Linked DNA regions of Homo sapiens: regions 2 and 3 are each linked to region 1. A link means that fine-mapping ties the variant in region 1 to the plasma level of a protein whose gene starts in the linked region. Region 1 holds a variant in brackets. A gene starts in each other region. All regions are shown on their forward strands.

Evidence for each region. PIP is the chance, under the fine-mapping model, that this variant and not a neighbour inherited with it causes the effect. Protein levels are from antibody-based Olink assays in UK Biobank. Linkage for the fine-mapping came from a reference panel and not from the study's own genotypes, which makes the PIPs less certain.
Region 2: it holds the start of AGRP, and the variant in region 1 is fine-mapped to the plasma level of the AGRP protein (UK Biobank, PIP above 0.99).
Region 3: it holds the start of NPY, and the variant in region 1 is fine-mapped to the plasma level of the NPY protein (UK Biobank, PIP above 0.99).

What each region holds. Positions count from the first base shown.
Region 1 is chr6:160,663,409-160,671,588 of GRCh38, forward strand. LPA (lipoprotein(a)) reads right to left here and starts at 867. Exons shown (of 39, transcript NM_005577.4): 1 at 758-867. The coding sequence starts at 806. The variant C/T (reference allele first, on the strand shown) is at 4,867.
Region 2 is chr16:67,480,229-67,488,403 of GRCh38, forward strand. It overlaps AGRP (agouti related neuropeptide), which reads right to left and starts at 3,319. Exons shown (of 4, transcript NM_001138.2): 1 at 3,289-3,319; 2 at 3,041-3,173; 3 at 2,797-2,882; 4 at 2,343-2,590. The coding sequence starts at 3,170. The coding sequence ends at 2,408. It overlaps ATP6V0D1 (ATPase H+ transporting V0 subunit d1), which reads right to left and starts at 929. Exons shown (of 8, transcript NM_004691.5): 1 at 729-929. The coding sequence starts at 858. It overlaps ATP6V0D1-DT (ATP6V0D1 divergent transcript), which reads left to right and starts at 1,166. Exons shown (of 4, transcript NR_184227.1): 1 at 1,166-1,291; 2 at 3,882-4,100. RefSeq lists enhancers at 480-719, 880-929 and a silencer at 1,040-1,209.
Region 3 is chr7:24,278,340-24,286,499 of GRCh38, forward strand. NPY (neuropeptide Y) reads left to right here and starts at 5,851. Exons shown (of 4, transcript NM_000905.4): 1 at 5,851-5,936; 2 at 6,902-7,089. The coding sequence starts at 6,902. The region is part of intron 2 of LOC107986777 (a long non-coding RNA gene); the gene reads right to left. RefSeq lists an enhancer at 1-985.

The DNA of each region.
Region 1 (8,180 bases):
TAAGTCTAGATTTCTTTGTTTATAAAATGGGGATGACTATGCTACCCTACCTATACCATGAGCTAAATAAGCTAGTATTTGTAAAGGACACACACTTACATTCACAATCACACACGGTGTGTATGTGTGTATGTATGTATAAAAATGTGGGGACCTAACCCACTCAACAAATACCCTGAGTATTTGTTGAATCATTATATGCGTATATCATCTGGCAAATGGATGTGTATAATTTCTCCAGGGATAAGAAGCAAATGTATACCGATGGAAAGCCTTACTCAGGCCATAACAAAGAGAGAAATGCTGAGTCCCACTCCATGAACAGGTCAAGGAACCAAACATATTCAAAGAGTTATTTCATTGTTTCAACTTGCTAGTGAGGGGAGCATGGCACCTGAACAGAGATGATATAAATTAATGAAACTGAGAACCAAGCGAAGAGCTTAGCCATCCTTTGCATAGTTAGCTACAATGGCTATTTATTTTTCAGCCAGACTGGCCATCATGTAGGCACACTCTTTTAGATTAGAAAAATCAACCATTATTTTTTCTGCCCATTCATTCCAGCACCGTGACAGTCTTCACGGGGAAATTAAACTTATTTTTTTAAGAATTTTTCAATCATATACAAGATTTTGAACTGGGAATTTCATGAATCAAAAATTAAATGAATTGCACATAAAGCCATGGCATATGTATTTTTACTACATTGTGGGAGAAAAAATAATTCTTATAATTTAAAAAAACTATGTCTTACCTGATTTCAGAAATAAAAGAAGTAGAAGAACCACTTCCTTATGTTCCATTTTGGGACTGGCCAGCAGTGCCCAGAAAGTGTGTCCCAATCCCAGGACATTGTTGACTTACATGAGAGTAAACGCACCCACAAACCAGATAGTCAAATTAAGTTAATGATTCTCTCAGAGACCCATGCCACTGGCTCAGCAGGGTTCAAACATTACCTTGAATATAGAGTCTTATAAAATATTTGAGAGTGCAATGTCAATAGATGCTGGGAAGTGGTGAAAGCCATTTCCCCCCTCAGCTGCTCCACATTGCCTTTATGTCTCCTTACTCCTTCCCTCACCCCTAGACCTTCATCTTTCCTGATTAGTCTTGTTTCCTCCCCTCTTCTTTCATTCTCTTTCTTTTGGATAAAATAAAATCATAAAAGTAGCTCATATTTGCTGGTAACTTCCATGACCAGACCCTCTGCCAAGTGCTGCACATCCATAGCCTCCCTCAAGCTTTCCAACAGGCAGTGCTGTACGAGGAGGGGGCTGAGGCCTTCCCGAGGTTGTGTCGCTACCCAGGGGTGCAGCTGATAGACACAACCCTTTCAGGTCTTAGTTTACGAGCAAGCTAGGTATAAATGTTAACATCTCCACATCCTATACCAAACTGTGCCGAAATGACAACATAAGTGAAAATCTTTTATTATCTTCAAAATTTATTTATTCCTAGTGAACTCACATGTTTTCTGTAATTATAAATTATGTTATAAGATATCAATCCTTCCAGGAGGGGGTGGTGGCTCATGCCTATAATCCCAGCATTTTGGGAGGCCACGGCAGATGGATCACCTGAGGCCAGGAGTTTGAGACAAGCCTGGGCAACATGCCAAAACCCTGTCTCTACAAAAAATACAAAAATTAGCTGGGTGTGGAGGCACATGCCAGTCATCCCAGCTACTAAGTAGGCTGAGGCACTAGAATTGCTTGAACACAGGAGATGGAGGTTGCAGTGAGCCAAGAATGTGCCACTGCACTCCAGCCTGGGTGACAGAGCAAGAATGTCTCAGGAAAGAAAAAAAAATAATAAATACCAAATAAAATTAATAAAATATCAATCCTTCCTATTCTAGTAGTTGTGGCTTAAATAAATAAATAAATATTTTTAAAAATAAAACATAGGGTCGAGTGCGGTGGCTCAACTCTGTAATCCCAGCACTTTGGGAGGCCAAGACAGGTGGATCACAAGGTCAGGAGTTTGAGACCAGCCAGGCCAATGTGGTGAAACCCCATCTCTACTAAAAATACAAAAATTAGCCAGGCGTGGTGGTGGGCACCTGTAATCCCAGCTACTAGGGAGGCTGGAGTATTCACTTGAACCCAGGAGGTGGAAGTTGCAGTGAGCCAAAATCACGTCAGTGCACTTCAACCGGGGTGAGAGTCTCAATAAAATAAAATAAAATAAAATAAAATAAAATAAAATAAAATAAAAGCATAGTATCAATCTTTCCGCAAATGAATTCATGGTGCAATCTTACATTTTCGTTCTCATGAAGTAAAGCAAGAGTGGTAGAATTAAGTGGAAAGAGTCTATCTCTAGTGTAGTCACGTCAGTGGTTGTGTCAAGATGGTTAGGAGGCTCCTCCCGTTTAAAACAGTATCCAAGCCCCAGTTGTAAATCAATTGGGGAGACACGCCAACTCTGATCATCAGCAATATCTGAGCTCCAGTCTCAGATATTGTGTGCAGTTAGTCTCTGTCCTGTACCCTCTACCTCCTTCCCTACCAGAAAAATCACCACTTTAGTCCCTGGCCACCGGGACACCCCAGGAGGGTGAGTGGTCTGAGGTAGTTATGGCACTTATGGCTCCCTTGCTGCTGATCTGGAACTCAAGCCCCAAGAAGTCCCCTTGGATGATCTGAATATACATTTGGGACAGATCTAGGGAGTTTCTGAGCAACACTTAGACTGGGGTCTTCCATTGATTAAATCCTACTTGAATTCGCTACTTTGGGACTCAAGTCTAAGGGACTGAGACTGAGACAGGAGAGCACAAGACTAACTTTGGTCTCTTGATCTTTTCTTACCTTGCAACTGTCAATGCCTCCAGCCAAATGCCCAGCACAGAGCTCAGTGGATTTGACTCTTCCATTCAGAAACTCATAGCGATTGCACACTTCATTCTCAATCACAGGGAGCTGGGCTTCCTTGAGAAAGCCAGCCCCAAAGGTACCTGTGTTTAAAAAGATGAAAGAAATGGTAACTACGTCCACAACATGTTCACAAGGAAACTCCAGAAGAACAGAGCAGTGGTGATGGACCTCCTGTCTGTCCGTGAGGCTGTAGAACACAAGGCAGCTCCCAATGCTGCCAGACTCTCTGAACCCTGGAGAGTGTAAACGTCATATAAGAGTCTATGTTCCAAAAACCTGGATTTAACAATCTGAGCTTTGTCATGGTGCTTTGCGGTTGGTTGTTGTTTCTTTACCTTTTTCTTTGCTTTTAAAACCATAAAGAATAATGTTTAAATGTAGAGTCTGAGAAATGCAATTGCTATTGTTTTTATATTTTCAGACTTTTTGTATGCTTCTTTCACTAATTACATCATATCACAAAATTTCACACCCTGATTTTTTCACTCAACATTACATAATGAGTTTTGTATAGTGCTATGATCTTCATAACTAATATTTTAAAGGAGAGCTACTGATTAATGAGCATGAGGTTTCCTTTGGGGATGAGGAAAATATTCTGGAAATATGATGATGGTTGCACACCACTGTGAATGTACTAAATGCCACTTGGTGGTACCCTGCAAAAATGGTTAAAATAGTAACTCTTACGCTGTGTACATTTTATTGCAATAAAAAAGAATAGTCATCATTTACTAAGCATTATCCTTTCCAGGCACAAGCTTATAATGTGGTGTATCTCACTTCATCCTCACAACAGTCCTATGAAACAGGCAGTTCCATCACTCCTGCTCTACAGTTAAGGAAACTGAGGTGTAAGGAGGTTGTCTAGTTCAACCTGAGCCTGGGTCTGCGGAGTCACTGCCCAAATGCTTCCTCCCCGTGCGCGTTGGCCCCCCTCTTGCTTCCAACCCTCCACATCTTTGTTCATAAAGTTCATTCTTATTCCTTAATATTTTCTGAGCCTAAGTTCCCATAAATTATATAGACATATTTCTGTCTCCCAATAACACTGCCAATTTATTTTCTAGAAGGTTATGACAGTGTAAAATGTCACTAGAAAACAATCACTTCACCACACTTGTATGAGTGTTCAATTTTTAAATATTAGCTAATCTAACAGGTTGAAATTGTCCTGATTCATTTTCTAATTTATACTTCTTTGACAATTTGGGAGAGTGAAGATTCTCCTGGTTGTGTTTATTCTTTTGTGAAAAACTGCTTTATTTTCTTTGCCAAATTCAAATAGAACGGTTGCAAAATTGCCAGAGGAAATGCTGTTTTTCCAGATGGACACACCCAGGGATGTTTCAGTGTTCTCACAAATAATCCAGTTTTCTAATTTTGCAAGCCCAGCTTTCATTAGAATTTTGCAAAAATCCTTGCTTTGCGAGCATGGCACAGGCAAGAGATGAGGCACTCTCTCTTTCTTCCCCCAGAGCCTTTGACTGCACTTAGATCATTGACTTTGGTTCAGAAACCTGACTGCATCTGGAGTTGACATGAGCAGCATGGAAGATGTTTGTCCCAGCACCTCACTCCAGAGGCCAGCTCAGCTCAATCTGGGCAGAGCTGCATGATGGAAGTTTCTGACTACCAAGCATCGGGCAGAGGGTGCATCACCTGGACTACATAGTTGTGTGAGGGAGCACCGTTCTCTAGAATCTGCTATTTGAGCAAGGCAAACATCCTGATAATGGTGAAAACCTACCGCAAGTTGCCAGGAAAGTTGATGTGGTCTGCGAGTAGGTGCTGCCATCCAGTGGCCGACATAGAGATGTCATCTCTGAGGGCAGGTAGGCCACAGGTGACAAGAGGATTGAAGCCCTCCCTGATGGGGCCTTGGGGAGAGGGCAGCAGGGTAAGTCCAGCGGCAGGATCAGTCCATTGATTGTGGATGACGACTGACCTGGAAAATCCCCTTGGCCTCAACACCTCCAAA[C/T]TCTGCATTTGATCCAAGTCAGGGAACACCTGGAAACATGAAGGGGAGAGCAGGAAAACTTTGACCTCCCTCTCAGAGGCTGAGAACGCCAATTGACCTGATGTCATTATTGACATGTAGAAAATTGATGAACAGGCCTGAGTTATGTTTTGTGGCACCTCATGGTCTAGTTAGTGTTCTGAGAATCATTTTCTCAGTGGACCTGCAGGTGAGACCAGGCGAGGCAGAAGCCTAGTGGGGGATGGTGGTTAGAAATGTGTGGATGGTTGTGGGGCAGAAGAAACAGCAAGTAGGCTCTGGGCCAGCTACAAACTGGTTATATGATGTCTACTGATGATGATAGTGATGGTGGTGGTGGTGGTGATGGTGGTGGTGGTAATAATTGTGATGGTGGTGGAATGATGATGATGGTGGTGGTGGGTAGTAATGATGGTGTTGGTGATGGTGGTAGTGGTCGTGGTGATGGTGATAGTGATAGTGATGGTGGTGGTAATGATAATGCTAATGGTGGTGGTAATGATAATGATTATCATGATGATAGCGGTGGTGATGGTGATGGTGATGATAATGGTGATGGTGGTAGAATGATGATGATGGTGATGGTGGTGGTGGTGGTAGTAATGATGATGGTGGTGGTGATGATGTTGAGGGTGATGATAATAGTGACAGTGGTGGTGGTAATGATAATGGTGATGGTGGAATGATGGTGATGGTGGTGGAATGATGATGGTGGTGCTGAGTAGTAATGATGGTGATGGTGGTGGTGGCTGTGGTGATGATGGTGGTGGTAGTGGTAGTAACGATGATGGTGGTGGTGATGATAGTGATGATGGTGATGATGTTGAGGGTGATGATAATAGTGATAGCGGTGGTGGTAATGATAATGGTGATGGTGGCGGTGGTGATGATGTTGATGAAGATGATAATGGGAGTGGTGGTGGCAATGTGGATGGTGATGATGATGTTGACGATGATGATGCTCATCACAATCACCTTATATGTTAGTACAGGTAAGAAAGCCAAGGCTAAAAGAGATTAAATAACTGCCCAATGTCACATGGAAGATGGTAGAGCCAGAATTCACACCCAGATCCTTATGATTTTAGCTTGGTGCTTTCATCAGTTGAGGTATTGGAGAGGATCTGTTTGCTTTCTGGCTGCCCAGCAGTCTATCACCCTACATCCCATAATCCTGTTGAGGGATCCACCCTTTGCCCTTCTGGGTATGAGTGGGGTCCTGCCTCCACCTCTAGCATGTAATAGCTGATGCAGGTTGGAGCCAATCAGTGATGGGTTCAGGGACAGGCCTGTGACCCAAGTTCAACCTCTCAGACCTGGCCAACTATTGTTCACTTAATGGGGACAGTGGCCTTCCTCAGTCTTTCCTGGCAAAGCAAGAGCTGCCACAGCATCTGCCACCACAAGAATCTCACCTTTGTGCCCAAGGATGATGCCTACTGCATGGCTGGACAGGGCCTGGGCCCTGGGGCCATCATGTGAGCCTAAAGACTTTTCAGCTCAACAAGAATTCCCCTTTTTTGCTTAATCCATCTTAAGTTGGATTTTCTGTCACTTGCAAGAAAGAGTCATGTTAGATACAACTCTATTCTGTATATTAGTAGGAGCTGCCATGATGGAGTGCGTAGCACGTGCTCGACACTTGATGCACATTCTTATTGTTTCTCCCCCGACAACCCTGCAGCCCCCATTTCATATAAGAAAACAATCAATGAGAGTTCATGACTTTTCTAAGTCCCGACAGCCAGTAAGTGGGAACCAGGGTTCCAATTCAGGTCTCCCTGTGCCATCCTGCACCTTCTCTGAGCCTCAGGTTCCTCACTTGTAAAATAGGAACAATAATATCTAAGTCTTAGAGGTTTGCAGCATTTAAATTTTTATAAGTGCAAAACACTGGGAGCAGCCTGGCACACCCAAAGGTGTTCCTCTTTTGCCAAGTTTCCTTTTAGTTGGCCTCAGTGTTCCCAGACTCAGGAGTGCAGAAAGGGGGATCAAGAAACCAAGGAGGATGACATTTTAAAAATAGTAGAAAAAGCACAGAAAAAGGAAAGCAAACTTTGCAATTATCTAGACCAGTGGTTTTTAACCTTTTTGTTAAACAAAAAACAAACAAACAAAAACCTTTCTTCAAATGACAGCTTATGCAAAAGGCTGATGTGGAAAACACCACTTGAAAATGCTGGTTTTACAAATGAGGGGTTGGAGTCAAGTCATACAAAGAGTTAACGTGCCTAGTCCAGGTCTGTCTGGCTAGTGGCAGAGTCAGAACGCTTTTCTAGGGCTCCAGACTCATAATGTCCTCACCAGCACCTCTGAGAAAGTCAGCAGAGTCAGAACGCTTTTCTAGGTTCCAGACTCATAATGTCCTCACCAGCACCTCTGAGAAAGTCAGGCAGAGATCCCAAAACAGTCTTAGTGTTCCAGTGGTCAAGGGGGTAAGTCTGATAGATATAATTATTGTCAGGGCATACTGAAAAATGAAGAAGGAATCCCTAAGATGTAGTCCAGGTGCTGATACCACATCCTGCACAGATGTTCCCTCTCTTTCTCTCACCCATCAACCAATACCAAATACTATCCTAGATTTGGGGCCATGGGGCCTGTCTGCCTCTCCCTTAGCTGCAGGTCCCCTGCCTAACACCCTCCCACACACATTAGACATGTGGATTTGGTAAGAAGGCTAGTTTATTATAACTTTTGTCATTATTGTTTTACATCATGTTTAGAAATACAATCTGGCTAATTTCACATAAAAAATAATCTAACACCCTTAAGGGCTGGGTGAAAACCCCACTTACCTGAGGAAGCAATATGAATGCTGGAGTTATGAATTCAGAGACTCAAAGACCTTTACTGGTTTTCTGCTTGTTTTAGGTATAAAGGAAATACACAATCATTAAAATAAAAAATGGATCACACCCCAAAACTTCAACAGCAAAACTATTTTGCTAACATGCCCCACTATGAAACCAAAGACAAGAAGTCAGCTACAAATAAAGACCCTGTACAAGGCCTTGGCCCTGTGAAAACCTCCAAAGAAGAAGTCTATTGGCTGTACTCAATCTACACTGCAGTTAAAGAAACACCCACACAGAGACATGAGAAAGAACCAACGTAAGAACTCCAATAAATCAAATGGCCAGAAGGTCATATGTCCTCCAAACAACTGCACCAGTTTTCCAACAAGGGTTCTTAACAAGACTGAGCTAACTCAAATGACAGAAATATAATTCAGACTACGGATACAAATGAAGATCATCAAGATTTAGCACAATGGCAAAATCCAATTCAAGGAA
Region 2 (8,175 bases), not on the chromosome of region 1:
ACGCCACTCTGGAGCTGTGTGCTGAGAAGAAAGGGGAACTCGGTTTCTCATTACTCTTGTGCTCAGAAACCCTGTCCCAACAGGCATCCCCCTCGCTGAGGGGGTGGGATTAATTGGCCAAATACTTGTATATGAACTTCCAGACCTGCAAGGGCCACCCTTGTTCTCCCAAACATTGCCTTCAGGAGATACTGCCCAGCCAGCAGTTCAGAGTTGGGAGAAAACCCTCGATAAACTGGCTCAGCAATTCCCCAGGAAGGCTCACCCCGCAGGCCAACGCGAAGACACGATGATCCCAAAGACCTTAGTGTCTTGGCGGGGGGAGGGGGAAGAGGTGGGGGACTTTTCCGCTTAGCTTCCCTAAGGGTTGCTACGCGACAGCTCTCGGGCTACGTCAGGGTAAAGAGGTTTGTATGGCCACACCTCGCACCGACCAACTACCCCCGAAACACCCCCTCCTCCCAAACTGCAGGGTGAGCACAGCGAGAGAAAAGGTGGCCCAAGCAGAGGCGAACAACTGCGGTTCTTAAAGCCTTGTTTGAGTTTGGGCCCGCGCCGAGCCACAGCTAGAGGTAGATCCCGCTCCTGCGCGTCCGCTATCAGCCCCAGGATTCCCAGAGAGGCCTCTCAGGCCCTTCAAGACCCCCCCTTCCGGCTTCCCGGCCTACACCTCTGAACCCTCAGGCCCCGGACAGCCTCTATCCCCGCCTTTCGCGGCCCCGGCTCACCCTCTAGCGTCTCGCACTGCACCAGGTTGAGGTAGTCGGCCTGGCTGAGCACCCCGGCCTTCAGGCCGCGCACCAGTCCCTCCAAGTAGCCATTGTCCACGTTAAAGTAAAGCTCCGGGAAGAACGACATGGCTGCTGCGGGAGCGGCGGGACCGGAGAACCAGGACCGGCCGGCACGAATCGCGACTCCCCAGGTCAGCTGACGCTGCGTCCTCAGCGGGCTGTCAAGTGCGTCAGGTGACGCGCAAGCGCCTCACGTGACCATAAGGGGGCGTGGCTCTGAGCGGTGCCCGGCTTCCGGGTGGCTGCGCGGAAGCGCGGTGCAGGCGTGGGCTGGCCCTGCGGCGCCTGCGCGCTAAAAAGAGGAAGTTTGAGGCCGGCCGCTTGGTGGCGCCTGTGGCCGCAGGGATTTGACTGGGCCTTCTCTAGCTTTCCCCGGTTTGCTGCACTTGACGCTGCAGGGCGGGCGGGGTAAAGAAGGGAGCGAGCCCTTCTCAAGCTTGGAAAGTTTCCAGACTGCTGGGCCAGCCTCCTCCCCAGAGGGAAACTGAGGTCCGATTGAGGTAGGAGAATAGGGTCTGGAGGCGGGGAACTTGAGGCCAATACGTGCTGAATTCTGAAGCTGAATCAAGGGAAAACACCAAGGTCTGGGGGCAGGGAACCGGAGGCCAACTAAGGCGAGCTTACTAAAGCTAAACCAAAAAGAAAAACCCCATCTCCCCATGTCCAAGTAACAAAGGATCAAAGGCCACTGTCCCCACAACCCTCCCCCTTCCACCACGTCTCAGTTGAAAGGGAGAGTGCCTTGGATTGGCTGCGGGCCAAGCACGGGCCATCCCTTCATCTGCATAGGGCGCCAATTCACCTTAGCCCCATTTATGCCTTGTGTTCCATTATTGGAACGCTAAGCATATGGGAGTTATTTATATCCTACTGCTCAAGGTCATGGCCAAGGTCTGATTGCAAAAATTCAAAAAGATTGCAACCTCAGGCATAAATGGATTAATTAGCCATGGACCAAACCCTTCATCCAGATAAGGGGTAACGGACAGGGACCGCAAAAGGAGTACTTAAAACCCGGAAAACTTTGTAACTGAGCCCCTTCAGCCTCTTGCTCAGGCCCACTCCCACCCTGCGTAGTGCTTTCTCGCTTTAACAAATCCCAGCTGTCTGCTTCCTTCCTGTGTGTCATTCGTTTGTTACTTTCTGGGTTTTGTTCAATTCTTTGTTCGAAACGCTAAGGACCTGAACAACGCACACTCCTGGCCTTCCCTCTGGTAACAGGATGAGGGGCAGGCTTTGCGTGGAAGTAGCAGCAAGCCCTGGAGCCTAAGGCTTATTTGTTAGCCAGGAGTGATAGCCCCTGTGCCACGCTGCGTCCTGCGTTCCCCGCACTTGCTGTACAAGATTTTCGAAAGCTGGAGTGCGGCTCTTCTCTATTTTTCCCAGGGGCACCAGGACCCCTAAAAGCGCCCGTGTATGTGCCTCCTATGATAGGGTAGCCCAGGCCCTGGGATAAGAGTATGTGTGGTTTCTTGGCTTGGTGACACTCCCACCCCCTCCATGAACCCTCCCTCCTTTGACGGCCACGTTTGAAATAACCACAGCCTTGGGGTTGGTCCCATCCTTTATTCGAGTTTCCTTGCCCCTACCCTAGCCCCGACCCTGACGTTGGCCAGCTAGGTGCGGCTGCAGGGATTCATGGCAGTACCCAGCTTGCGGCAGTAGCAGAAGGCATTGAAGAAGCGGCAGTAGCACGTGGCACATGGGTCACAGCAAGGCACCTGCTGTCCCAGGCAGGACTCATGCAGCCTTACGCAGCGACGTGAGGAGCGGGGCTCGCGGTCCTGCAGGTCTAGTACCTGCAGGGGTGGGGAACCAGCACAGGCCTCTAAAGACAGATCCAGGGATCTTACCTGTCCCAACCTGTGCAGGATGGCAGTGGAGCATGGGAAGGGGTGGTCGGTAGTGTCGTCGCTGGTGAGGGAGTTTGGAGCTGGGGAGAGGAGCTAATACCCAATGCCCCCTCCCAAGGGCCACCACCTTACCCTTTTCCCTGAGCAGTTACCTCTGCCAAGGCCTGAGCCTCCTGCAACAGATCCTCTTCTGCCTGTTCTGCAGTTGTCTTCTTCAGTGGGGCCCGCAGGCCCAGGCCTGGGGCAGAGGATGTGAGGGCAGGAACCCCCATGCACAAAGCACCCACCTCCCAGGGGAGGGTTTGGGAAGGGAGAAAGAGGGTTTATGCCAGGGGAGACTATTTGTGGCCAGAGGGTATTCAGGCCCCGCCCAGTCCCACCCTTGCTCACACTGACCTGGGAGCTCTGGGAGCAGGGCCTGGTCAGGCCTTCTGATGCCCTCCATGGGGGCCAAGCCCATCTGGGCTCCTCGCGTGGCAGGCAGTGCCAGCAGCAGGGCACAGCTCAGCACCGCTGCGGTCAGCATGGCCTGGCTCAGCAGGAAGATGTACCACTTAGTCCCTCCTTATCCTTGGAGTCCCCTCTAGGTGCCCAGATAGAGACCCCACAGAGAGGAGGAGTCCCTGCCCAACCTGAGGACTCACCTCTGCCTCCGGGATTCTTGCCTAGAGAGTTCCCGGCCACCCCGTGCCCTTGGCTTATATGGCAGGGCCTAATGAAGGGCCACACGTGACTGATCCCTGCAGCCAGGCCGTGAAGGACCCTTCCTGGAGGGTGGGGGCACAGTTCAGGCCCTCACTCCCTGAACCTGAGCCTTTTGTTCTACAAGAGGAGTGCCTATCTCCAATTTGGGGTGAGGTTTCCAGGAGCCGATTAAAATTTGGGAGCAAGAGAGGGTGCCCAGGGTCCACAAATTTCCACAGGACAGGGACCTAGGAGCTGAGCAGGGCTAGAACCATTAGCAATAACAAGGCAGGCGGCCCTGAAAGCTTAATTTAATTTGTGGCCCCAGAGATGCTTACTCAACCCCTATGTGGCATGTTGTTTCCTGTGCTTCCAAGAATTCGGGTCAAGGACATTGGAGCGGGTGATGGGCCAATGGCCACTGTTGGGCAGGGGTAGGTGCAGAACCAGAACCTGGGTTTCTTTGGAGGGAAAGGGGAAGGAAAAGCCCACCTAACCAATCCTAGGCCCTCCTGACTACATTTCTGGTCCTCCCCTCCCTTTCTCCCTCCAGGTTTCTCCAAGACCGCCCACTCCTGCTCCTGTCCCCAAACCCCTTTCTGCCTAGGGTTCCTGGAAGCCAAGGAAACAGAACGAACTGTTCCCTGGGTGGGCGAGCCACTGCAGAGTACAAAGCTTTCAGGCCGCCTGCCTCATTAGCACTAATGGCTGCTCCCTTCCGCCCTGTGTCGTCAGGACTGTCTATGCCTGGTCTCATCAGCACAAGGCTGGGGTAAGGACTGCCCTTTTGTGGAGATGGCAGGACATACAGGACCCTGCTGCCCCTGCCTTCCCTCACCCCACTGCAGAGCTGTTTATCACACACGTGTCCATCTGGGAAAGGAATGCAGGCTGAATCAGCTTTGAGAGGATCGCAAGGCCCCAGTGCACAAACTGGGTTGGCACAAGGCAGTGGAAAAAAGATGAAGGGGGCCAGGTATGGTGGCTCACACCTGTAATTCCAGCATTTTGAGAGGCCAAGGTGGGAGGATCACAAGGCCAGGGGTTTAAGACCAGCCTGGGTATCATGGTGAGACCCCGTTGCTACAAAAAATAAAAAAATAGCTGGGTGTAGTGGTGCATGCCTGTAGTAGAGGCTGAGGTGGGAGGATGGCTTGAGCACAGGGATTCAAGAGTGCAGTGAGCTATGACTGCATCACCACACTCCAGGCTGAGCGACAGAGCAAGATCCTGTCTCAAAAAGAAAAGAAGATAAAGGGTGGCCAGGCACGGTGGCTCACGCCTGTAATCCCAGCATTTTGGGAGGCCAAGGTGGGCGGATCACTGGAGGTCAGGAGTTCAAACCAGCTTGGCCAATATGGTGAAACCCTATCTCTACTAAAAATACAAAAGTTATTCAGGCATGGTGGCACATGCCTGTAATCCCACCTACCCGGGAGGCTGAGGCAGGAGAATCACTTGTAACACGGGAGGCAGAGACTGCAGTGAGCAGAGATCGCACCACTGCACTCCAACCTGGGTGACAGAGTGAGACTCCATCTTAAAAAAAAAATGCTATTTAAAATGAAATGAAGCAATCCATACTCCCAACATTTATATATACTGGGACATCCAAGAAATTAAAATCACACCTCATTATGTCTTTTTCTTTGAGTCAGGGTCTCACTCTGTCACCCAGGCTGGGCCTGGTCAGCACCCATGCTATGGAGAGCTCTTCATGGTCTGGTGTGGACAGAGTGGGAGTGGAAGATCTCCTCCCACACAGGTGCTCAGTGTCTTACCTCACCTACGGGCAGCAGCTGTCTTCACCTGAGTGTGTGCACACAGGTGTATCAGCCCCATGGGCAGTGATGGACGAGGGCTGAGGCACTCACAGGGCAGCCCATGCCCCGGTCAGGTCCAGTGGGGGAGATATCAAGAAAACCCAGCGCCAAAATGCAATGAGCTGTGATCGCGCTACTGCACTCCAGCCTGGGCGACAAAGCAAGTTGCCGTCTCAAAAAACAAAAACAAAACTAAACAAAAAAAAAAAAACGGCCAGGTGTAGTGATTCACACCTTCTTGAGCCCAGGAGTGGCAACATAGTGAGACTCTGTCTCTACCAAAAAAAAAAAATTTAATTAGCTGAATGTGGTGATGCACACCTGTAGTCCCAGCTACTCAGGAGACAGGGAGGAGGATAGCTTCGGCCCAGGAGATTGAGGCTGCAGTGAGCCATGGTGGTGGTGGCTCACGCCTATAATCCCAGCACTTTGGGAGGCTGAGGCAGGCAGATCACTTGAGCCTAGGAATTCGAGGCCAGCCTGGGCAACATGGCGAAACCCAGTCCCCATTAAAAAAAAAAAAAAAAAAGGCCAGGTGCGGTGGCTCACGCCTGTAATCCCAGCACTTTGGGAGGCCGAGGTGGGCAGATCACAAGGTCAGGAGATGGAGACTATCCTGCCTAGCACAGCAAAACCCCATCTCTACTAAAAATACAAAAAAAAAAAAAATTTAGCCGGGCGTCATAGCGGGCACCTGTAATCACAGCTACTTGGGAGGCTGAGGCAGGAGAATGGTGTGAACCCAGGAGGCAGAGCTTGCGGTGAGCCGAGATCGCGCCACTGCACTCCAGCCTGGGTGACTGAGCGAGACTCTCTCAAAAAAAAAAAAAAAAGTTTCACAGCCGGATGCAGTGGCTCACGCCTGTAATCCCAGCATTTTGGGAGGCCAAGGTGGGCAGATCATGAGGTCAGGAGTTCAAGACCAGCCTGGCCAACATGGTGAAGCCCCATCTCTACTAAAAATACAAAAATTAGCTGGGCATGGTGGCACGCACCTATGATCCTAGATACTTGGGAGGCTGAGGCAGGAGATTTACTTGAACTGGGACCCAGGAGGCGGAGGTTGCAGTTAGCTGAGATCGTGCCACTGCACTCCAGCCTGGTAACACTCCAGCCTGGTAACAGAGTGAGACTCCATCTCAAAAAAAAAAAAGTTTCACTATGTGGGTAATTTTACGGTAAGGAACCAGCCTGATATTCCCAGGACAATGCTTGTTGGCAAAAGGACCTTCAGAAATATGTGGCATGTTCTGGGAGGAGGATTTGGGAAACCCTGGGGGAGGCAGAGCCTCCTAAGTGAGGGTGTGGGCCCGGAACACAGGGACTCTGTGCAGGGAGGAGAAAGGGGAGAGTGTGCATGCTCGTTCCAGAGACCACATGAGGACAGAGAGGGGTGCTCAAACCCTCTCCCTTCTCTTCTTTTTCCTCCTGCAGTGTACTCCCCTTCAAGGGCCCTGTTCCCACCTTGTCCAGGGGAGAGGGTGGGGGGTGCAGGGAAAAACTGCAAGCACCCGTGGCTCTGTCAATCAGGGTTGATTTTGAAACCCCTACCCAGCCCATTGCCCCTGCCCCAGAGAGCACAGCCATGTGTTTCCTGTGAATCATCTGTAGGATTTCCTAAGGCAGAGGTTGCCTGGAGAGGCACGGTCTCCTCAGTCATTCAGGGAGAGGAGAAGATGGATGGGGGTTCTCTCGGGCTGGTGTATTGAGCCCTGAGCTAGAGAGGATCTGTGATTGTTAATTTTGTGTGTCAACTTGACTGGGCCAGGAATGCCCAGATATCTGGTTAAATATTATTTCTAGGTGTGCCTGTGAGGGTGTTTCCAGAATCATCCAATCCTTTGAGGGTTGGAATAAAACAAAAAGATAGAGAAAGTTGGTGCCGTGGCTCATGCCTGTAATCCCACCACTTTGGGAAGCCGAGGTGGGAGACTGTCTTGAGCCCAGGAGTTTGAGACCAGCCTGGGTAACATACAGAGACCCAATCTCTACAAAAAAATTTAAAAATAGCCAGACACAGTGGTGCACATCAGTGGTCCCAGTGACTCCAGAGGCTGAGGTGGGGAGGATCGCTTGATCCCAGGAGGTTAAAGCTGTAGTGAGCCATGATCACACTACTGCATTCCAGCTTATGCACATGAGACCTTGTCTTAAAAAAATAAAAAATTTTAAAAAAGAAAGAAAACTGGAAACAATCCAAATATCCATCAACAGCAAAATGGATAATAACATTATAGTGATATAATTGGGCCAGGCACAGTGGCTCACACCTGTAATCCTGGCACTTTGGAAGGCCGAGACGAGTGGATCACTTGAGCTCAGGAGTTCCAGACCAGCCTGAGCAACATGACAAAACCCTGTCTCTTCAAAAATTACAAAAATTAGCTAGACATGGTGGCGCAAGCCTGTAGTCCCAGCTTCTCGAGAGGCTGAGGTGGGAGGATCACTTGAATCCAGGAGGCAGAGGTTGCAGTGAACCAAGATTGCACCACTGCACTCCAGCATGGGTGACAGAGTGAGACCCTATCTCAAACAAACAAACAAAAGTATGTTTATATAATTGACAACTATACAGCAATGACAAGAGAATAAACTACTGCTACACACTGCAACATGAATGAATTGCACAGACATAAGGTTGAATGAAAGAAGCATGCTGCAGAAGAGTGAGGATGGAATGAATCCAGCCCTATGACATTCAGACCCAAGCAAAATTATAATAAATGGTGATAAAACACAACAGCGGTTAACTCTGGGAGGGTGGGAAATTATTGACTGAGGGGGGAAATGAGGAAAACATGTGAGGTGTTGGAAAGGTTTTGTATCTTGATCTCAGTGGTGGTCACGCAGGTATATAAGTATGTAAAATTTCATCAAGCTGCACATTTAAGACTTGTGTATTTTGCCAAGTGCAGTGGCTCACACCTGTAATCCCAGCACTTTGGGAGGCCAAAGTGGGCAGATCACCTGAGATCAGGAGTTCGAGACCAGCCTGGCCAATATGGCAAAACCTCGTCTCCACTA
Region 3 (8,160 bases), not on the chromosome of region 1:
CCTGATCCTTCCTCTGGAAGCTTCGTCTCAGAGGGGCACCCGGCTGTATGAGTTGTCAGTTGGTCCCTACTGGGAGGTATCTCCAAGTTAGGCTACACAGGGGTCAGGGACCCCCTTGAGGAGGCAGTCTGTCCATTCTCAGAGCTCAAAAACCATGCTGGGAGAACCACTGCTCTCTCCTGAGCTATCAGACAGGTACGTTTAAGTCTGCAGAACTTTCTGCTGCCTTTTGTTCAGCTATGCCCTGCCCCCAGAGGTGGAGTCTACAGAGGCAGGCGGGCTTCATTGGGCTGTGGTGGGCTCCGCTCAGTTCGAACTTCCTGGCAGCTTTGTTTACCTACTCAAGCCTCAGCAATGGCAGATGCCCCTCCCCCAGCCAGGCTTGCCACCTTGTAGTTCGATATCAGACTGCTGTGCTAGCAGTGAGCAAAGCTCTGTGGGCATGGGACCTGCTGAGCCATGTGTGGGATATAATTTCCTGGTGTGCTGTTTGCTAAAACCGTGGGAACAGCACAGTATTTAGGTGGCAGTGTCCCAATTTTCCCGGTACAGTCAGTCATGGCTTCCCTTGGCTAGGAAAGGGAAATCCCCTGACTCCTTGCACTTCCTGGGTGAGGCGATGCCCACCCCTGCTTTGACTTGCCCTCCGTGGGCTGCACTCTTTGTCCGCCCAGTCCCAGTGAGATGAACCAGGTACCTCAGTTGGAAATGCAGAAATCACCCATCTTCTGCGTCGATCAGCTGGGAGGTGCAGACCAGAGCTGTTCCTATTTGGCCTCTTGGAACGGACCTAAAGAACACTCAGAAAATATTTCAAGGTAAACCCAGAAGGTTGTGTAGGTGTTGGCCAGGTAAAGAGTAGGGAGAGAGAATATCTCAGAGAGCAGACACAGCACAATGAAGGCCCAAATAGGAAAGCTGATTGGCATATTTAAGGAGCAGAAAGGAGGACAATGGACAGAAATACAGGGAGTGAAGAAAAAAATTATGTTAGATGAGCCTAGGAGGTATGTAGGGTCCAAAATATGTGGGGCCTTATAGTTCAATGGAAGAATTTTGAAAACATTTTACACTTCATATGATATTTAATTAGACATTCATGTTAGTGGAAGCTCCACTTTGATAATCTAAATTTGAGGCCCTTGATGGAGTTTTTCTGAGCTAGACGTATCGCCCTGGTTTCCAGGTATGAAATCTGAGCTGAAGGGAGAGATTTCAGGATCATAAGCTGTAGGAGTAGATGAGCTTATGTGTGCAGTAGAAAGGTTAAGGCTAAGACTATGGGTACAGAAGGGTGAGTCAGCAAAGGAGATGGTGGTACATTCAGAGAAAAAGGAGGTGAATCAGAGAGACAAGAGAAAGTAATGGTTAAGAGATGTCAAATATCTGATAAAGATCCATGTGGTTTGCAATTAGAAGGTCTTACTGATAGCAGGTTTATAACTTGATTCAGATAGAACCTAGATCACAGTGGTTTCATGACTACACCTATGGTGAATAACCAGAGACAATGAATAGAAACATCTTTTTAAAGAAGCCTTGCTACAAGACTTGCTCTTCTGGCCAAGATGAAGAAACAGGAACTGGATTTACCCTCCCTGCTGAAACAACTAAAACACTAGACAAAAATAGATGAAACAACACTTAAAACATTGGACATCAGTAAAGGACAGTAATATCTTAGAGATAGAAAACAAATGACAAGAGCCATACAATGGTCCCAGATCACTGCCTGATATGGTTTGGCTGTGTCCTCACCCAAATCCCATCTTGAATTGTAGTTTCCTTAATCCCCACGTGTTGTGGGAGGGACCTGGTGTGAGATAATTGAATCATGGGGGCAGTTACCTACATGCTGCTGTTCTCATGATAGTGAGTGAATTCTCACAAGATCTGATGGTTTTATAAAAGGTTTTTTCCCCTTTGCTCGCCACTTCTCTCTCCAGCTGCAATATGAAGAAGGACGTGTTTGCTTCCCCTTCCACCATAATTGTAAGTTTCCTGAGGGCTCTCCAGCCATACAGAACTGTGAGTCAATTAAACCTCTTTCCTTTATAAATTACCCAGTCTTGGATATTTCTTCATAGCAGCATGAGAATACACTGCCTGAAGGAGTCATCCAGGCTACAGTGCAGAAGGAAGGAATTGAATCATCCTGGCCAAGGAGCTGGGGCTGGAAGTGTAGGGAGCCAGGGCAGCTAGTGTCCACAGGAAGATTATCAGGTAAAAGAAAGAATACTCTGAAAGTCTGAAGGGTGTCCCCCTTGAGGATTTAGTTGATTATTGATCAGATTATACACAAGAACAAACCACCTGAGACCAGGAAAAGAACTACACAAAAAGATAAGGGTAAACTGTGTCTGATGCTGACCAAGGGCTGGGAATAGTGTCTATCTGAACAGCCAGAGGGGAGAGCTGTGCAATTTGAGGTGTGCGTGTTGGGGGGAAGTCAGTTACCAGTTAAAGTAAAAAGAAGGAATTTTGCCTCAAAGTGTGGAAAGAGTAAACCTAGTCTAAAACCAGCTCTGGTCCCACCTAACAAAACTCACATCCAAGACCTGAATGGATAAAACTGTCTTTAAATTTTTAATTGTCTCAGAACAAGCTCAAGAACAGTCATAGAAAGACAAAAAAACAAATAACAAGGTAAAATCCACAATATCTGACATCCTATCAAAAATTATCAGGCACACAAAGAAGAAGAAAAATATAAGCCATAATGTGGAGAAAAATCAATCAACCCAAAGTATACAAAAATCACACAGATGTTAGTAGTACAAAAGTTATTATTAATGTATATTCAAGAAGCTAGAGAGAAGAGTGGACACGTTTAGATACGGAAGATATAAAAAAGATTCATTGCTTTATATTGTCCTGTAACTTAAAAAAAAGATTCAAGTTGAAACTCTAGAGATGAAAGCTACCAGGTATAAGGTGCAAAATACACTGGATAGGATTGGCAGTAATCAGATATTACAGAAGAAAACATTAGTGAACTCACAGACATAGCAATAGAGACTATCCAAAATAAAATATGAAGGAAAAAATGAGCAAAACAGAAGCAAAAACAGATCACCAACAAACTGTGGGCCAATATACACTCACCGTCTGACTCAGCCATTCTGGTTTTAAGTATTTTCCAAGAGAATTAAAGGCTTTATGTCCATACAAAGACTTGCATATGAATGTCAAGGCAGCTTTATTCGTAAAAGTTTCAAGTGAAAATAACCAAAAATTCATGAGCAGTAGAATTGATTAAAAATTTTGAAGTATATCATATAATGAAATACTGCCCAGCAATAAAAAAGAATAAACTATTGCTACATTTAACAATGTGAGTGGATTCAAAAATAATGATGCTAAGTGAAAGAAGTCAGACAAAGAGTACCTACCGTGGAACTATATTTATGTGCAATTCTAGAAAACGCAAACAAATCTCTAGTGATAGCAGATCAATGGAGGAGGGGGTGAGGAAGAGGCAAAAGGAAGGAATTACAAAGGTACATGTGGAAATTTGGGGAAGTGATGTATAATCTTCATTTTCTTGGTTTCAGTGATGGCTTCCTGAGCATATAACACACATGCATATGTGTAAGAATATATCCAATTGAATATTTTACACATTTGTAGCTTTGTATATATTCAGCAGTATCTATTCATTCCTTCTGCTTCTTTACCTTAGGTTTAGTCATGAAACCACTGGGTTTCATGTGGTCCAGGTTCTATCTGAATCAAGCTATGAACCTGCTATCAGTAAGACCTCCTAATTGCAAACCACATGGACCTTTACCGGTTATTTGACTTCTCTCGGTCATTACCTTCTCTAGTCTCCACTGATTCACCTCCTTTTGAATCTCAACAAGCTCAACAGTATCTCAATGTTATCTTAACAAAGCTGTTAGAAATAAACAACTTGACTTTGAAACAAAGGAGAGAAATGGCTCAGCAGCTAGGAGAAGATGCAGGGTTGAGTTGCCAACAGTTGGTTTTGTTTGTATTTTGGCCAGGGGATGTGGCTTGGACTGGAGAGAAAGGAGATAAGGATGTAAGCACATGTAGGGCATATCACCCCCTATTTTTTATTCTCTGAATCCTTAACCCTCAGAATAAGTTCTTATTCTTGAGAATCAATGACATTATCTTAAGCTAAATTAATCAAGCCTCCACAGTGTTCTTCTCTCAATAGTGGTGTGGGCCTTCCTAGAAGTAATTTTTCCCAAATTCAGTGATACATTTTAAGTTCAGATTTTAATTGATATGAATCTGTGATACACTCTAAAATAAGATTATTTTATTGAAAAGTGGACTGTAACTTTCCCTTTATCTAGGAAGAGCTCTAAGTTAGAAGATGTTTTGCACTTTTACCGAAGGCTGTGTCTTGTAAGCACCCCCGAGCAACTCTGAGAGCCTTGATTTTTGTGTCCTCAGCATATGTTTGTGTAATACAGAAAGAGAAGCAGTTGCCAAGTGAAAGGGATGTTGGTCTCCAAAATTATAGTTTGATCCCACAAACACACAAACACATACATGCAAAGGATTGTTTGCTTCACGGTTTTTGATATTTAATTCAATGCTGTTGGAACAGCACAAAAACTAAGTGTCAGTTTAACAGAATCACTTGTCCTTTTAGCATTAAAATAACATGGAACTTAATGCTTTAATTTCCCAACATGCCTTTTTATTTAGAAAGATTCAGACTTATATTTCATTTAGAAATAAAATGCCATTTTATTTAGAAAGATACAGGAGCATTCATTCACGGAACTTTCAGATCTCAGTCCACTGCATAAAATCTTGATCCTGTAATAATAGTTTCTGTATCTTGCATATTCATTCAACAGGTTTAACGCGATGAGCAAATTAATGTTCATCGTTTTTAACATGTTTCATCTTAATCAGAACCCACATTCTCAACGTTAATTGAACGTACATAGGACTATACAAGGGTTAGTAAATAAGACAGAAACTGTTGTTCATTTAACCACCGTCACTTTGGACCAAAAAAGAAAAAATATATATTTTTAAAATTGAGCTTAAAAGAGTCTCTAGAAGCTGGAAGCGTGGCTCTTTTTCAGCAAACTGGGGGAATAGGTTTACCGTGTTCCCCCTCTGGGGAATTTTGAGTCGCCACACTCATGTCTCGACCGAGCCTGGCTCGCTGCGTCTGAGCGAGTACTTGAGGAAGGCTGATCTAGAAAAACCAGCTGAGAGAAGGGGCAGAAGCCCCTGAAACCACGGGCGGGGGTGGGGTGGGGAGCGCAGCTTTGGGACCCTCTAGCCGGAGACTTCCGGCAGCTGCCTCCGACTTGTTCTAAGTACAGGAAAAATCTGTGCGCCCAGTTGCCTCACTCCAACAGCGCGCAGTTGTGCCCGGCGAGGATGCCGCGCTAGTCGTGGAGATGCCCCACCACAAAGAGGATTCAGGTGCTTCCTACTCCGGCACCCAGTGGGTTGGTAGTCCTGTTGGCAGGAGACAAGAATCGTCTGGGCTGCTCCTATCTCTGGCAGGACTAGACGGGGCGTGAAGGAAAGAAGGAAAGAAGGAAAGCAGGGATCGGGCACTGCCCGAGGGCAGATACTTGGGCTTTGGTGTTGTCCAGCGCGCTCGGAGTGCGCTGCCTCGCTCACGCGGTCCCAGGCCCCGCTTCTTCAGGCAGTGCCTGGGGCGGGAGGGTTGGGGTGTGGGTGGCTCCCTAAGTCGACACTCGTGCGGCTGCGGTTCCAGCCCCCTCCCCCCGCCACTCAGGGGCGGGAAGTGGCGGGTGGGAGTCACCCAAGCGTGACTGCCCGAGGCCCCTCCTGCCGCGGCGAGGAAGCTCCATAAAAGCCCTGTCGCGACCCGCTCTCTGCACCCCATCCGCTGGCTCTCACCCCTCGGAGACGCTCGCCCGACAGCATAGTACTTGCCGCCCAGCCACGCCCGCGCGCCAGCCACCGTGAGTGCTACGACCCGTCTGTCTAGGGGTGGGAGCGAACGGGGCGCCCGCGAACTTGCTAGAGACGCAGCCTCCCGCTCTGTGGAGCCCTGGGGCCCTGGGATGATCGCGCTCCACTCCCCAGCGGACTATGCCGGCTCCGCGCCCCGACGCGGACCAGCCCTCTTGGCGGCTAAATTCCACTTGTTCCTCTGCTCCCCTCTGATTGTCCACGGCCCTTCTCCCGGGCCCTTCCCGCTGGGCGGTTCTTCTGAGTTACCTTTTAGCAGATATGGAGGGAGAACCCGGGACCGCTATCCCAAGGCAGCTGGCGGTCTCCCTGCGGGTCGCCGCCTTGAGGCCCAGGAAGCGGTGCGCGGTAGGAAGGTTTCCCCGGCAGCGCCATCGAGTGAGGAATCCCTGGAGCTCTAGAGCCCCGCGCCCTGCCACCTCCCTGGATTCTTGGGCTCCAAATCTCTTTGGAGCAATTCTGGCCCAGGGAGCAATTCTCTTTCCCCTTCCCCACCGCAGTCGTCACCCCGAGGTGATCTCTGCTGTCAGCGTTGATCCCCTGAAGCTAGGCAGACCAGAAGTAACAGAGAAGAAACTTTTCTTCCCAGACAAGAGTTTGGGCAAGAAGGGAGAAAAGTGACCCAGCAGGAAGAACTTCCAATTCGGTTTTGAATGCTAAACTGGCGGGGCCCCCACCTTGCACTCTCGCCGCGCGCTTCTTGGTCCCTGAGACTTCGAACGAAGTTGCGCGAAGTTTTCAGGTGGAGCAGAGGGGCAGGTCCCGACCGGACGGCGCCCGGAGCCCGCAAGGTGGTGCTAGCCACTCCTGGGTTCTCTCTGCGGGACTGGGACGAGAGCGGATTGGGGGTCGCGTGTGGTAGCAGGAGGAGGAGCGCGGGGGGCAGAGGAGGGAGGTGCTGCGCGTGGGTGCTCTGAATCCCCAAGCCCGTCCGTTGAGCCTTCTGTGCCTGCAGATGCTAGGTAACAAGCGACTGGGGCTGTCCGGACTGACCCTCGCCCTGTCCCTGCTCGTGTGCCTGGGTGCGCTGGCCGAGGCGTACCCCTCCAAGCCGGACAACCCGGGCGAGGACGCACCAGCGGAGGACATGGCCAGATACTACTCGGCGCTGCGACACTACATCAACCTCATCACCAGGCAGAGGTGGGTGGGACCGCGGGACCGATTCCGGGAGCGCCAGTGCCTGCACACCAGGAGATCCTGGGGATGTTAGGGAAAGGGATTGTTTCTTTTCCTTCGCTCTATCCCAGGGCAGGACAGTATCAGGCACTTAGTCAGCTCTAGGTAAATGTTTGTACAGGGCACACTCTACACAAAATGGGTACCTTCCATTTTGTGCAACTACAGTCACAGAGTCGTGATCCCCAGATTCAGGTTCCCCAGGCTGGTAGGCTGGCAATCTCCTCTCACTCACCTCTTATGGTTTGTTGTGGTTCTTACGGCAGTGGGGCCCGGTCCAGAAATCTCGAAAGTACCCAGTGAAAGGGGCAAGAATGCGCCAGAGAAATGCTGTAGGGGGAAACGCTAGCAAGGTGTCTAGGAGAAACAGAACGACCACCAAAGAAAACCAAACCAAGGAGTAAACTGCAGGGTTGCCACAGACATTGTCAGACTTTCCGGCCTGCCCAGGGCTAATTGAATGACAGTATTTAGAAAAAGACAAATAGAGCTATTTTCTTTTCTTCTTCACTGTGTTTTTTTTGCAGTCTCACTCCCATATTTGAAAATTCTAGTCCCAATAATTAGAGATTTAGCCTGAAAACAGTTTATCTAAAATGCAGAGGTCTCCCTATTTTATAGCTGGTGAATTCTGAAAAGAAAGTGCCCACTTGGTATTTCATTAAGAAGAAACTTACGTTGGTCCAGTAACTTTAGGATGAATTCAGGGATTACATGGAATCTGAGAAATTGTAAACTTTATTCTGAACATTCCGAAAGTCAAAATGAAATGCCATATTTTCACTCTCAACATTGACAATTAAGGGAAAAATCAAATCCAAACTATTTTACAAATTACATAGGATTTAAATTTTGTTTTCAAAATTGGTTGATCTTAGTTCTAAATCATTTAATATCTTATTTTAATTACTGAGATTAAATGATTTTAGTCATTTGACCGTATCTAAAGGATAAGCCCTTTAGAAGCATTAATGTTAGTTAACATGTTTAAATTATATGTTTAAAGTATTGTGGGGTTTATATATTTATTTATTT